Linked DNA regions of Homo sapiens: region 1 is linked to region 2. A link means that fine-mapping ties the variant in region 2 to the expression of a gene that starts in the linked region. Tissue or cell type: whole blood. Region 2 holds a variant in brackets; the other region holds the start of a gene. All regions are shown on one strand. Distances are from middle to middle.

Region 1 (8,000 bases), 440 kb before region 2:
GGCGCCTGTAGTCCCAGCTACTTGGGAGGCTGAGGCAGGAGAATGACGTGAACCCGGGAGGCGGAGCTTGCAGTGAGCCGAGGTCGCGCCACTGCACTCCAGCCTGGGCGACAGAGCGAGACTCTGTCTCAAAAAAAAAAAAAAAAAAAAAAAAAAAGAAGAAGAAAAATAGGGACTTACTTGCTGAGGTAATTCACCATCAGACCTGTCCTTCAAGAAATGTTAAAAGATTTTCTCCAGACAGAAGGAAGATGATGTAGGTCAGAAACTTGGATCTATATTAAGAAAGGAAGTGTTGGAGAAGCAATAAATGGAGGTAAAATGAAATCTTTTATTTTTATTTTCATTAATAATTTAAAGGATAACTTCTTATTTAAAGCAAAAATAGTAACAGGTCATTGTAGCATATGGATAAGAGAAAAGACTAACAGCAATGCTACGAGGAATGGGAGGGAGGATTGGGAACACACTCTTATAAGATATCTACGTTACATGTGAAACAATACCATGATTTGAAGGTGAACACACATTAGTAAAAGAAGAAAATCTATATTAGAAACTCTAGGCTGGACATGATGGCTCAGACCTGTAATCCCAGCACTTTGGGAGGCCAAGGCAGGCAGATTGCTTGAGCTAACGAGCTTGAGACCAGCCTGGACAACATGGTGAAATCCTGTCTCTACAAAAATTGCAAAGATTAGCTGGGCATGGTAAGCTACTCAGGGGGCTAAGCTGGGAGGATGGCTTGAACCCAGGAGGCAGAGGATGCAGTGAGCCGAGATGGCACCACCGCACTCCAGCCTAGGCAATAGAGCCAGACTTTGTCTTAAAAAAAAAGCAAAGCAAAGAAAAAAGAAACTCTAGAATGGCCACTAAAAAATTCTTTAAAAAGTATAATTGATACTCTTTAAGAGAAGATAAAATAGAACCACACAAAATGCTCAATTAAAATCGGAGAAGGCAGAAAAAGCCGCCACTGGCAACCAGTAGGAAACAGTTACAAATATGATTGATATTCATCCAAATAGATCAACAATTGTGTTAAATGTGAATGGTCTAAATACACCAATTAAAAGACACAGATTGCTAGAGTAGATAACAAAACAAGACCCCACTATATCTTGTTGACATTAAATATAAAGTATCTGTTTGGTTAAAAGTAAAGGGATGAAGAAAGATATACCATGTTAACCCTGATCAAAAGAAAACTGGAGTAGCTGCATTAATTTCAGATAAAAGGGACTTGAGAAAAAGGAAAATTATCAGGGATGTGAGGGGAGGGATAGGTAAGAAACTCATAATCATAAAGGGGCTAATTCTCCAAGAATACATAATAACCCTAAATATGCATGTGCCTAAGAATAAAATGTCAAAATAAGTGAGGAAAAAATGATAAACCTGAAAGAAAAAATGGTCCAATCCACTATCATAGGATACTTCAACATTTCTCTATCCATGATTGATAAGATCAGATAGGCAAAAAATCGGTGAGGATATAATTGACCTAAACAGCATTATCAACTTTATTTAATTGATATTTGTAGATCTAGCAATAGCACAATACACATTCTTCTCAAGCTGGCATGGAATAATCACCAACATTGGCCACATTCTGATCTATAAAACACACCTTATCAAATTAAAGAAAAATAGAAATTAAACAAAGTATGTCTTCATACCACAATGGAAGTAACCTAGAAATCAAGAACAGAATGATAGCTGGAAAGTCCCAAATTATTGGAAACTAAACAACACATTTTTAAAAAACATTTGGGTCAAAGAGGAATCTCAAGAATAACTAAAAACATTGATCTAAATAAAAATTAAAGTACAACTTTTCTAAATTTGTGGGATGCAGTAAAAGCGGGGATATTTATAGCAGTAAATGTATACATTTGAAAAGAAGAAAAATCTAAAATCAACAACCTAAATTGTCACCTTGGATAATAGAGAAAGAAGAGCAATTTAAGCCTAAAACAAGCAGAACAAAGAGGAATAATAAAAATTAGAGAATGAAATTGAAAATAGAAAACAATAGAAAAAAATCAACAAAACAAAGAAAAAGCTGAAAAGATGATTAAAATTAATAAACCTGTCCAGGTTAACCAAGAAAAAAAGACATTGGGCATAGTTTGCCAATATCAAAAAATGAAAGAGGCGTCATCTCTACTAATTTCATAGATGTTAAAAGAATAATAAAGGTTTATGATGAACAACTTTACACCCACAAGTTTGAATATTAGATAAAAAGGACCGATTCCTTGAATGATACAACTACATTTTACAGAAAAGCAAACAGATCACCTAATAGCTCTGTATCCACAAAGAATCAATAATTAATGAAGTCTCAAAAAAATCACCAGATTCAGATGGTTTCACCAGGGAATTTTACCAAACATTTATGGAAGAATTGATATAGGTTCTTTACAATTTCTTACAGAAAATACAAGTAAATATTACTTCTTAACTCATTTTATGAGGCCAGCATTACCGGCATACCAAAATAAATTAAAGACATTACAAAAAAGAAAACTATAGCCAAATATTTCTCATGAACATAGATGCAAAAGTCTTCAACAAAATATTAGCATATTGAATACAATGGTGTATAAAAACAATTATATACCATGCCCAAGTAGAATTTGACCCAAGTATGCAAGACCGGTTCCTTGAAAATCAATTGAAAATCAATGTAACCCATCATATCAACAAGCTAAAGAAAATAAAATCACATGACCGTATCAATAGATGCAGAAAACGAATTTGGCAAAATCCAACATTCATTCATGATAAAAACTCTGCAAACTAGGAATAGAGAGAACTTCCTAATCTTGATAAAGAAGAACTAAAAAAATCCTACTGCTAACATCATATTTAGTGGTAAGAAACTGGATACTTCCCCTAAATTCAGGACAGGACTGTTAAGAGAATGAAAAGACAAGCTTCCACTGGAAGAAAATACCTGCAAAACACGTATCAGATAAAGTACTTCTATCCAAAATACACAAAGAACTCTTAAAACTCAACCATAAGAAAACAACCTTTTTTTTTTAATGGGCAAAAGATGTGAACAAACATCTCACCAAAGAAGATATACAGGTGCATATGAAAAGTTGCTCCACATAATTTTTCAGTAGAAAATTGAAAATTAACAACGATATAGCACTATATGCCTACTAGAATGTCTAAAATTATAGATGATAGACGGATGGATGGATGGATGGACAGATAGATAGATAAAGATAGCCAATATCAAGTGCTGGTGAGGATGAAGGAAAGGGATTCATATTTGCTGACAGTTATAAAAATGCTATAGCCACTCTAGAAAACTGTTTGGTTCTTATAAAGTTAAACAAATTTACCATAAGATCTAGCAATTGCACTCCTAGATATTTAGTCAACTAATTTAAAAAATTTGTCCGTACAAAACGCTGCATGCAAATGTTTATAGAATGTTTATTCACAGTCGCCAAAAACTGGAAACCACGCAAATATTCTCCAGTGGGTGACTAAACAAAATGTGGTACAAATAATGAGACTCCCCTCAACAATAAAAAGGACTATTACTATACACAATAACATGGATGAATCTCCAAGGTATAATGATGAGGGAATAAAGTCAGTTTCAAAATGTTACATATTGCGTAATTCCATGTATACGACACACTCACAAAGACAAAACCGTAGCAATGGAGAACCTATCAGTGGTTACCAAAAGTTAGGGTTGGCGGGGGCGCTGTTATAAAAGGGCAGAACTAGGGAGCTCTTTATTGCGCTAGTGGTTACATGAATCCAAACAAGGGTTCAAGATCACAGGATTATATATCAAATAACCAATTTTACTGAATATCAATTTTAAAAGTCAAATAAATTATTAAACACTATTAAACATATACAATGTTTAAAGTCAAGCAAAAAGTCCTAAACTAAAAGTAAAATAATGATTGTTTAGAAGTACACCAGGATGGTATGGGTCATCTGCAATATAACGTCCTGTTTGGGATAAGGAAGCGTGACTACATCTACAGGGTGACGTGAGAAGGGCCCAGAGCAGCGAGCAGGTCTTGCCATCAGGGAGGGGAACCATCTGAAGGGGTGGCGTGAAAAAGTCTTTAGAGGAAGGCAAAAAATGGGAAAAGGTCAGAGAACCTTTTTGGGAGGTAAAAGGACCAGCTTTGGATTAGGCGTGATGCACAGGCCCCAGCGCAGGGCGTAGAAACTGCAGCCTGGACAGCCTGGGTGGGAGAAAGTTTGGGATGTTTAGGAAGGAAGGGTGCGCCAGCCAGGGGGAAGAAACGAGACAGGTGGCCGCAGATGGCGCGAGTCAGGCAGCAGGAAAAGGCAGGCTGTTTAAGCAGCCTTTTCCTGCAGTCCAGGCGGAGAGCGCAGAAGGAGCACCCCGAGGGGCAAGCATGGGAGAGCCGGAGCGGGCTCGCGGGCGCGCGGGCGCTGTACGTCCCCTCCTCGGCTCGCGGCCGCGAGCACGCGCTCTCCGTGCCCGGCCCCGGAGGGGCGGGGGCGGGGCACAGGCGCGGCGCGCGCACGTCCGCGCGGGGCGGGGGCGGGGCGCGAACGCGACCGGTGACGTCAGAGGAGGGCGCGCGCCCGGAGGCAGCAGGCGGAGCCGGGAGGCGGGCGTTGTGCGCGGCCGCGGGCGGAGCGGAGGGGCGCGAGGGGCGGAGCGGAGCGCGGGAGGAGGCGGGGGAGGAGAGGCCACCGGGACCGCGAGCGGCAGCTGGGGAGGGGGCCGCGGAGCCCGAGCGGGAGCAAAACAGCTGATCTGGTTTTCCTTTAAAGCGAGAGAAAATGGAAGTCGGGTAGCGGCGACTGCGGCGCTGCGGGCTGGCGGAGCGGAGCGGCGCGGCGCGGCAGGTAAGACGGCGCTGGCCGCGGTGCTGCCGGCGGGCGGCGGGGCCGGGCCCGCGGACCAGGCAGGTGCGCTCTCCGGGCGCGGGGCCGGCGCCGTCTCCTTCCCGAGCTCCGTGGCGAGGCAGGTGGGCGTTGAGGCCGGGCGACCGCGGGGCCGGGGCGCGGGGACGCGGGGGGCGCGGGCCCCGGCTGGGCTCGCCGGCGCGTCTGCATTGCGGGCTCCGCTCCGGACCCCGCGGGCTCCCGGGCCACCGGCTCCGGCCCGGCGTGGCGCGCCTCTCTCGGGCAGGGCGCGGCGCTACCGCTGGGTCGGGGCTGCTGCCTCCGCTCAGCCCTTTGGCTGTCCGCACTGGAACGTGATGCCAGGCGTGGGGCGACCGACCCCTCGGTCCGTGCGCGCGCGTCGGGGGTCCCGCGGCTCTTGCAGACGGCCGGGCAGGGCCCGGCCCCGAGCCGCGCGCGAGGCCGCTCGCCGGGCACCGGAGCTGTGACTGCGTGGGTCCCCGCGGCCCGGCGCACCGCCGTCCCGCTCGCTCTGCTGGGTCTCGCTGGACAGCAGGCAAACCATTAAGGCAATTTGGCTGTGAACCCAGAGGCCTTCCCTAGTATCTCCTCACTGGAGGGGAAAAAATTGCATCTGCGGTGCTTTAAGTGCTCCTTTAAATTTGGGAGATGTCAGTGATGTCATCATTAACTAAAACTTTCCTTCATTGGACACAACCGCTCAAGTGTACCCTCCTCCCTCCCGGTGAAGCTATTGCAGCCCTTTGAGAATCTCTGTAATAAAATGGATTTGCCTCTGCTCTGTAAACTCAGCTACCTCACACAAGTGCAAATGACTTTTATTTCTGTCTATTGGCTTGAGAATGTATAGATTTAAGAGTAGCTGAAGGGAAACTTGTGAGACCCCGATCAGGGAAACGCTTCATCCACAGCACAAGGATCCAGGGGAAAGTCATGTATGACATGCACATGGTTACCGCCAGGTGATACCTTTGTAAATGGAAGTGGGCTGTAAGAGGAACAATTTTTAAAAATATGATGAGGCAGATAATGTGTCCAGGAAAAGGTTGACAGCGGGGCCTAAATCTTTACAGGTCTTAATTGCTTCAGGAAAATCTGCAGGTGTCCTTCACCATCCTCCTCCTCCTCCTCCAGGGTGTGCCCGGAGAAGCCTGCCCTGGGCGAAGGCGGGGAGGCAGGTTCACTAGGGTCCTCCCAGCAGCCGTGTGTCCCACCAGCTTCAAAGGCCTCTTCAAGACCCAAAGAGGGTTCACGAGAACAGAGGTAGATCTGCACGGCACACTCAGTTCTGGATAAACATTCCCCACTAAATGGGATCAACACTCCATTATTTTATTGTGAGTGTGCCATTAGTACCAATTCTTATGGGAACAAAACTAAGCAAGTTCCCAAGGCAATCTGAGTATCTACTCAAGCCTATCATATCGAAAGGATATCCAATAAGGGACAAAAGTATTGACATTTTTGTATTTAATAATTAATGACACCTCCTAATTGGTTAAAATAAGCATGCCTTAAATTGTTAGTGTGATTTTATTGGATCTGTAAGGAATTTAATACCATATGCCACTCAAAAGTTGGGACCTGGTTAGGAACTTCAATCTCTTGAACCCTGTATTGGTGTGAAAAGAATGGGAAAACAGTGGTTACTTAGGCCTTTAGTGTTCAGGCTGATAATGGGTGGAAATCGCCGCTTTACGAAGTATTGCCACGTGCGGGTCTCACTTGGGCCTGGATCATAGATGGCAGGTTTTCCCTTAGAAAGTAACTCCTGAGGCCCCCAAGCTTGGTGGAGAAGGAGAGGGGACACCTTTCTCTGAGCAAGTGTGTGTAATTCTTGGCCTCTGACCTCCTGATGGTGCCGCATTTATTCCCAATGGTGTGCCTAAGTGAGATGAGAAACTGGCTCCAAGTGAGCTGCTTTTGGATGACACTGCTCCCGCTGTGTGTAGTTGCTGTAGAACTTAACTCTTGAGTTGTGGCAGAGATTCTTCTTTACAACATGTCCTCAATAGTATGAAGATTGGTTTTTCAGGGTCTGCATTGCAAACTCTTTGAAAATGGAGTCTGTGAAATCAATCTGGCCCCGTATCCATCTTTTTGTTTTCACCTGTAGACTCGTGAAAATATTCACCACGTTTATGGTTTAACTCGCTGTAGTACTAGTAAAACTTCAAACGGAAGTGTTTCCACTAAATCTTTAGGTATGGGTCACTTATTTCCCCAAAACATTTTAAAACAACCGCTTTAAAGCCTCTTCATCCCGCTTGTATGTTTAGAGTGCTTAAATTTGGGAGTTGTCAGTGATTTCCCAAAAGAGATCACTGTCACATCTTCCGTTTCTAAGAAGTAAAAATTGCCCTGATTTTCTTTCTGTTCCCTTTGGGATATTAAGGTCATTTATTCATGCCTTAGGCCCACGGAAGAAAGGTTGAATTAGCTCTTGTGGGCCAGCAGGGGGCGTGCTAAACGCGGCTTGGCGGGCCTGTGTCAGAGCCACCTTGGGAGTGGATCTCCAAGTTGAGGTGGGTGCATGTGTGTGCGCCGGTGTGCTCCGCCCCCGCCCCCCGCCCCTCCCCCTCCGCTCCCGCATGCCTGTCTTCCAAGAGATGGAAACTTAAGGAAGGGTTGGGGGCACATACTTGAATGACCAGAGGTTGTGGAGTCTGGAATGTAGGCCTCCCTAGCAGAGATTGCTTCAGTGGCTCCATGTCTTTGGAAGGTGGCTCTTAGCACACTTTGAGTCTCAGGATTGAGTGCCTTCTCAGACTGCGGAAGTGAGTGTTAGTTTGGAGAGGAGAAAGTTGACTTCAGTGAACTACAGGCTGGTGTCCTGGTCATGGCGTGAATGTGCCAGCCAGGGCAACCCCGTGGAAATCCTCTCCTGCACACCCTTGATGTTTGCTCCTGGCTTTGACTCCCGATTGACTTAGGCCCTGGGACCCTGTGTGGTAGTACTTCCCAGAGGGGCCTATTTGACCCCTTGCACTGAATTATAGGTGGCGGATGTCCACTTAGGAAGTAATTCCTGTGGCCCCCAAGCCTGGTGGAGGAGGGAAGGGGCACTTTGCTCTGAGCAAGCTGTGTGCAAGTCATGGCCTCTGACC
Region 2 (8,221 bases):
AACACTTTGGGAGGCCAAGACGGGCGGATCACCTGAGATCGGGAGTTCGAGACCAGCCTGACCAACATGGAGAAACCCCGTCTCTACTAAAACTACAAAATTAGCCGGGCATGGTGGTGCATGCCTGTAATCCCAGCTACTCGGAAGGCTGAGGCAGGAGAATCGCTTGGACCGGGAGGCGGAGGTTGCCGTGAGCCGAGATCATGCCATTGCACTCCAGCCTGGGCAATAAGAGCGAAACTCCGTCTCAAAAAAAGAAAAGAAAAAAAAAAGATACAAAATTTCAGTTAAAGAGGAGGAATAAATTCAGGAAGTCTATTGTACAGTATGGCGACTATAGTTAATAACAACGTATTATAGACTTGAAAATTGCTGAGAGTACATTTTAAGTGTTCTTACACCAAAATGTAGGTGAGGTAATGGATATGTTAATTAGCTTGATTTAGACACCCACAATGTATACATACTGTATATCGCACATCATGTTGTATACCATACATATATACAATTTCATCAATTTAAATTAAAAAAAGATATTAGCTCATATTAGTATTTCAATCAGCCAGCCCAGGAATATTTGATAGAGGAGGGAGGCATGGTGCAGATCCCAAGAGACTGAGAGAAGGAGCAGAGGAGCTATCATGGGGGCGGTGGGGCCTCAGATTGCCCAGGGATAGCTGAGGTGTCAGGGGAGGCCAACACGTGCTGCAGCACCAAACAGCACCTAACCTCAAGGCTGAGCACAGCGAAGGTGCGTTTCCCCTCACATAAAGTGCACTTCAGACATGGGCAACTCTTGAAGGAGCAGTCGCCCTGGTGGCAGGTCTCCACCCGAGGCCTCCTCCATGGTCACTGTGGGTGGGAAGAATGAGAGGACCTGGAGAGTCAGATTGGCGGGTAAATGCCTCCCCCTGGAGGTGACATAGCCTTCATCCATGACATGACCTCGCTCCCTGTGAGGGATTCAGGAGTGTCATCTCCCAGGGGTCTGGAAGGAGAGGAGAGTCAGATGGGGTCGGCGCTGAAAGTCTCCATCAGCAAAGGGCCGGAGCCTGTGGACTGATTCTACCTACACCCTGCTTTCACAGGAGGCTGGCTTGCTGCCTGGGGCTGCACTCTGTCACCTGTCAGCTGCATAGAGGTGCTCCTGGACTTACTATGAGGTCACATCCCAATAAACCCATTGTAGGTTGAAGATTTCATAAGGTGAAATTGCATGTAATACACCTAACCTACTGAGCATCATATCCCAGCCTACCTTACACATGCTCAGAACACTCATTTAGCCTACAGCTGGGCAAATTGTCTGGCCGCACAGTCCCCTATAAGGTCGTTTACCATCGTGATCACGTGGCTGGTGTCCGGCATCGAGAGAGTATCTTACCGCTTCCTACTGAATACATATTGCTTTCTCACCATTATAAAATCAGGAAAATTATAAGTGGAACCATCATAAGTTGGAAACTGTCTGTAATTACATGGCCATCTGATTGGCTTGTTAGAAGTCTCAACAATGGGTGCTCGCAGAGTGCTATGGAGAAGAGGTCTCTTGTGAAGTACTTAAGATCAGCTGAAGCCGCACTCAGCCTCACTTAGGAACACATGCACTCGGGAGGCAGGCAGAGAATTCAGCATGGGTGTGGCCTGCAGAGGTCACTCCCATTCCCCATTGGTACATGGACCTCCTACCTGTACAAGAGTGAAGATGTGACTGGGCTGAGTGAAGAACTGGGCTGGTCCCAGTTCTGCCTCTCCAGCCAAGGGGCTGGGCACATGACCCAAGGGAGAGGAGTCAGAAAGACCATGGGGACTTTCTTGAGCTCTCCGCTCTGGAAGCTCTAGCTTCTCTGACCTTGGAGTTATTGATGATCAGCTTGCTGCTGGGAGAGCTGGTCTGAGGAAGAAGCCTAAAAAGGGGGGAAACAGAATAGAATTGTGGAGAGAGAGAAAGAGAGAGAGAATACAGATCCAACTTGAGCTTCTAGAACCAACTGTGCCTGAAGCTATGACCCATTACACAGCCGATACGTGTCCTCTCTCTGTTTAAGCTAGCTTGAGCCATATCCTCAGTTATAAATGAAAAATTCCAATTACTAATTGGTCTTTGGTGCAAAGCCCAACACAGAATTCTCCTAAGCTAGGCTGACCCACTAGTAGCACTCCTTTGGTGAGGTCCCCTTTTCCCCTAAGGCCAACCTGTTAGTAAAAAAAGCAAGTTACCCGGCCTCTGTGTGGGAGCAGGAAGACACAGGCCCTTCTGCTGGGGGTGTGTCTATCCTGGCCCTTCCCTCTCATGCCCAGTCTTCCCATTTCCCTTCAAGCTCATGTCCTGTGGGCCCAGGGGTGGGGATGTGACAGAAATGAGGTGCTCCTAGGACCACTAGAGAGCCCCATCTCCTCTGACGTGGGGTGGCACAGGGGTCACTGAGTGAGCCTCCTCTGCCCCTCATGGGAGAGCTCCTCGTGACTCACTGCAGGGTTGGGTGCAATGGGGGACAGGGTTTGGGAAACAGAGACCTTCTCAAGTGAGCTCAGGCAGAGGGGGATTTCCTAGCAGGCCACAGGAGACCACGGCCCACCCACATGAGTGCTCTCGGGTCCTTGGGAGCGTGTGCAGCTTCTCTCTCCTGCACCTGCAGGGCCTGTTTCCTCTGGCCCCTTCTCCTCACATCCATTCTCTGCATGTGGGTTCTGCAGCCTGGTGGCCTGCCCTGGCTCGCCCTGGCCAGCAGCCTCAGCCCCCAGCCCGTGCAGATGTCATGTCCAAAGACCCGACCACAGAGCCCAAGGTCTAGCAGGTACAGCTGCCAGATAAAATGCAGAACATCCATGCAACATTTGGGATGTGCTTATACTAAACTCTTACTCAAATTTTTATTTGAAATTCAAATATAACTGGGTATCCTGTATTTTTATTTGCTAAGACCTGACAACACTCATGGGAGGAAGCCCCCGAGTGGGAAGAAAGGTTAAGGTAGAAAGGGAGATCCCAGGATTGCTTTCTGGGGTGCACGCCTCCCTGCACCCCACCCCACAGATATTTAGACTTTGAGGCAGGCCTTGGGCTGGCAGTGCCCCATCATCAATGGGGGAGCTGTAAGTGGCTGCGAGGGGAACCAGAGCAAACCCCAACATAAGGCATGGCAGAGAAGAGGCACCCTGCTGCTCCTCCACATTCCCAGTCACCTGTGAGGGCCTCCAGTGACCAGCATTCCAAGATCCTCTCCCCAGCCAGCAGCCACTACTGGCAGTGACTATGTGGAAGCTCCCAGTGCCCTTGGTGGGTATGAAACTGCTGGGGTCCATCTCTAACCTGGCCCAGTCTTTGCAGGGAAGGATGATAAATGGCCACTTGTCGCGCCCGTGCCCACACTTCATGAAAGTGTCCAGGGGATGGTCAGTCCACCTCAGATCGCCCTGGCAGTCAGGGCTGGCATTCCACACGTCTGGGGGGCAGCCTGAACTTTGAACACCCCACCCTCAGGGGTTACCTAGCTGACCCTGCAGCAGGGATCTAAGCCTGTGAGGATGGCAGCGAGTCCCTGAAGCCTGGTGACCTGAGCTCCGGAGCTCCGAGAGGATGGCTGGCTAGATATTTAGTTCTCTCTCCTATCTGTGGTAATGACTAGCAAAAGGGGGCTGGTCGGGTTCTTTCCAGGAAGGTAACATTGTCACACAGCATAGAGTAAAGGGACCCCACAACCTGCTGGGCAGTGCAGTAGCCCCAGGCCACACCTCTGTGAATGGAGCTTCCTGGTCTGGGACCCCAACTGGGGCGAGCGAGGGGTGAAGTGAGCAGTGCACAGCACATGGCATTCCCACATCCTGCACCCTCCCACCCACCCTTGCCTCACTCATGCCGGGCCCTGGGGGTGGGATGAACTGAGAGCCAGAAGTCCCACGTGAATGCAAAGCACTTCCACCCTGCTCACCTCCTACCACACCAAGTGCTGTGGTAAACACGCTCTCCCAGAGATGGGCCGAGCCACGGGCTGGGCATGGATTCTCACCATCATCTGCATTTAGAGGATACCAGGACACAGAGGGGCTGAGGGGCCCGGCTGCCACATGCACTCACATCCTCGGAGGCGTCACCCTGAGTTCCTCCTACTGGGACCCCAGAAACAAGTCATCCCCTAAGAAACCCCAGAGTCCCAGAGTGGTGCCTAGCTGCCTGGCCCTGTTCAGCTCTCACAGGTCCTGCCTACGATGGTGGAGGTGCTCCCTCCTTCCCTCCCTCCCTCCCTCCCTCCCTTTTTCCCCCGCCCTCCTTTCCTTCCTTATGGGCCAAGTGCATGTGCCTGCTCCACTGGGTGGAGCAGAGTGATCAGGACCCAAATTAAGGGACTCCTGGGGCCCTGCAGACATGACTCCTCCCGGCTCAGTGTTTGCCAAACTTAGACTATGATCCACTAAGGTTTGGACATAAGCTCAGTGGGCGGCGATTCCTAGAAAATAGGAGTGTATCACACGTAGGGTGAGTGTTTCATGAAAATGGCATAAGTTATACACATACATGAATAAATGTACATACATCTGTACATGCATGAATACAGCAACTATGAATGTATACTTTAATTTTCTGTAGAGATGGGGGATGAGTGTAGGGTGAATGTGTCTCGCATAAGGGTGAGTGTTTTTGTGAAATTGGTGCCAGTTTTAGATATCTGTACACGCCTGTGCATACACATGCATGTGGGGGTGCCGTGGAGATTGCATCATCTCCTGTGGGTCACAGCCAAAGACGTCTGAGCAACTCTCTTTTATTCTGTTTACTTCAAGAGAAAGAAAAAGTAACAAGCCAAAAGCCCCTGGGCTTCTCAGGAAACAGGCTGAGGGACACTTTCAGCACAGGATCGGAAGGTCTGGGGGTGGAGACACATCCTTTGCCCGCCACAGACACTGGAGGGCGTGTCGACATTGCCTGCAGATGTCCAGGAAAGAGCTTGGACCCTAGGGGG[C/T]GGAAAACCGTGGGTCTGTGACCTTGACAAGCTCTCCAGCCTCCCGGATCACCTTCCTTGTCTTCCTTGTCTTCTTTGTCACCTGTAAAAGATCGAGAGCCTCTTGAGGCCGTTTTGAGATTAAACACACCACCTGCGAAGGGTCCTAAGCATGACCCTAGCGAGACCCTTCTCCTAGTCATTCTCACAACCAAAGGTTTTCAGCTTGAAGAGAAAGCCCGAGCTGTCCCCAGTGTCCCTTACTGTGACAAAGGCCCCTCGGAACAGCCCCGCCCCCACAGCCTACAACACATTGAAAGGACAAAACATAGACAAAACTTAAAAGAAGTAAAAACACACACGTTGCACCCGCCCCGTCCCTTAGCGTGCATAAGATATACACAGGAAGGAAGTGGCCAGGGTGATTCAAGGAGGCTGAGCTGCGACGGCTCAAGGAAAGGAATATTTCTGACAAGTCCGCCTTGACTGTGGTTTTGAACATGATTTCAGCCCTAGTTTTGGCCAGTCCCCCGGCCCCCGCCAGCACTTGTGTCTGCAGTCTAGACACAGCAGCAAAGGGGGACACCCATGCAGGAAGGCGCCCAGTGGGCTGCCCCATGGCCTTGGGGTTGGAACCAGGGCAGGATGAGCAAAAGCTGCTGCGCGCCGGCATTGACGGGGGGCTGTGGCTGGGGCAGGGAGGCGTGGGCTGCTGCCCAATCCACAGGGCTGAGGATGAAGGGGAGCTCCAAGAAGCCTGCTTCCCAGTATTTTCCCAGCTACTGACTCACAAACAAACCTGTTTTTGATTTCTGCTCTTAACCCGCTTCAGGCCCTAGCAGGTCCAGCCCCGTGGAACCAGGGAGCTCCAGACACGTCATTCTCAAACTCAAAAGTCCCTTCCACGCCCCTGAGATAGCAAAGACCCAGTTCCAAGCCTCTCCCACCTCCATCCACAGCCTCTCCTGCTTTCCAAGCCTTTCCACACCCCAACTCTGGCTCAACTGGGGGCAAGCACCTGATTCGAACCTCCCTTGGGGGGTACTGTTGGTTCCCGGCCCTTCTTCCCAGTCCTCTATAAAAGGCCTGCCCATCCCCAGAGCCAGCTCAATGCCACCTCCTCTGTGCACCTTCCTGGCTCTCCAACTGGCAAGTCTCTCTCCTGCTGCCACTGATCCTGCATTTTACTGTGTGGGCAGCTGTATGTCCAGCTGTGTGCAGCTGTGTGAACCTGAGCAAGTCACTTACCTCTCTGAGCCTCATTTCCCCATCCGTAGAATGGGGATATTGAGAGTTGTCTGCTGAGATGAAGTAACGGACGCGAAGCAACGAGCCTGGCACACAGTCTTGGCACCAGCATTGTACCACCAGTGGCAATGATGGCAGGCCTCTTACCCTCCACTAGGTGGGAATCTCTCTGGGGTAGGACTTGGCTGTTCTCTCTCCATCTTCTCTTAGTTCTAAAAAGATTTCCTACATCTGGCAGGTGCTCAAAAAAGAAATGTGAGGGGTGGTGTCTCCTGGTGGTCTGGGGCCAGAAGATTCTTCACATGGCGAGGGCAGATAAGACCCTGAGCTAGGCAAACCACACCTTTTGCAGGAGGGGCAAGAGCGGCTGTGGGGCAGCTGTGGCCTCGGCTGCCAGGGACTGGCGTGGGACTGATGTCCCTTGCATGGAGCCTGAGTGGCCAGTCAGTGTCAGCCCACACAGGGGCACCACTGCTTCCAGACCAAGGGCTCAGGGAGACCTCACAGGGCTGGGCTCTCAGGGCAGAGGTATCTTTGAGATGACATTCCCTGGGGCCCACAAAGGTGCCATAGTCTGAGCCCACAGGCTGGACGGGCATCCTAGCCCATAGCCTTCAGTAGAACGGGAGGTGGGAAACAGGTGAGTTCTTCAACAGTCCTGGCTCACTGCCCTGATCGCATGTACAGGGTGCAGAGCACACAGGGACTGGGGAAGGGGGGGACCCTGGTGGAAGAGAGTGGACTCCCTGAGAGAAGGGAACACAGCTGACAGCCCAGGGAGACCAAGGTGGCTAGGGTTTTTAGGACAGAGGACCTAAACAGAGAGAGCTGGCAAAACACAGCCCTGGACATCTGCAAAGGGACTCCTCGGTTATTCACCTCATGTGTGTGGAGAAACTGCCTGGGGCCAGGGAAAAGCCACCGCATGGAAGTAAAGAACAGCAGCTGGAGCTCCCAGGGGGCTCCCACCAGCCAGAACGCATAACTCCTGATTCACTGGCCATTGGGCACAGTACTCAGTGGGTAGCCTAAACTCAGCCCTGGACTAAGCACTGCTCCACGCCCACCTAACAAATCATAAAAGCAAGACCCAACAAGATCAAACAGTTTCTCAGTAGCTTCATTGTATCTCAGAAAAAAAGCTCAAGATTATTTATGTGTTTATTTTTCTGCTTTGTTTTGAGGCAGAGTCTCGCTCTGTCGCCCAGGCTGGAGTGCAGTGGGCGCTGGAATCAGGCATGTGCCACCATTCCAGCTAATTTTTGTATTTTTAGTAGAGATGGGGTTTCACCATGTTGGCCAGGCTGGTCTTGAACTCCTGGCCTCAAGTTATCCGCCTGCCTCGGCCTCCCAAAGTGTTGGGATTACAGGCATGAGCTACCGCACCCAGCCTAAGATTATTTATAATAATACAAAAATATCCAGCATCCAGCATGGTAAAATTCACAATATCCAGCTTCAAATGGAAATGACCAGGCCAGGTGCAGTGGCTCATGCCTGTAATGCCAGCACTTTGGGAAGTTAAGGCAAGAGGATCGCTTGAGTCCAGGAGTTCAAGACTAGCCTGGGCAACAAAGCAAGGCCCCATCTCTACAAAAAAAATTAAAAGTTAGCTGGGTGTGGTGGTGCATGCCTATAGTCCCAGCTACTCAGGAAGCTGAGGCAGGGGGATATCTTGAGCCCAGGAGACTGAGGCTCCAGTGAGCGGTGATCACACCACTGCACTCCAGCCTGGGCAACGGAGTAAGACCTTATTTTAAAAAAAAAAAAAAGGAAAGAAAGAGAGAACAAGAAAGAAAGCAAGAAAAGGGAGGAATCAAGAAAAGGGAGGGAGGGAGGGAGGGAAGGAGACAGAGAAAGAAAATGACCAGGTATAGGAGAAGGTGTGGCCCGGTTGGCTGGTATGGAACCTTCTACGGAGGGCAGAGGCCATGTCTAGATAGGAAAACAGGGAGCAGAGAGAGGCGGTCAGGAAGGAGCCCCCTTTCCAGTGCAAGAGCTCCAGGAAAAAAAATTCTCAACTTCACTTCCCC

What was found. PIP is the estimated chance that this variant, and not a neighbour inherited with it, causes the effect.
Region 1: OTUD7A starts here. The variant in region 2 is fine-mapped to the expression of OTUD7A in whole blood (TOPMed, PIP 0.98).

Annotation. Positions count from the first base shown.
Region 1 is chr15:31,867,379-31,875,378 of GRCh38, reverse strand. It overlaps OTUD7A (OTU deubiquitinase 7A), which reads left to right and starts at 4,706. Exons shown (of 13, transcript NM_001382637.1): 1 at 4,706-4,872. RefSeq lists silencers at 4,674-4,743, 7,239-7,533.
Region 2 is chr15:31,432,192-31,440,412 of GRCh38, reverse strand. It overlaps a transcript of KLF13 not described here. Among named protein-coding and RNA genes, the nearest start is that of KLF13, 110 kb to the right of the region's middle. RefSeq lists an enhancer at 5,046-5,565. The variant C/T (reference allele first, on the strand shown) is at 4,962.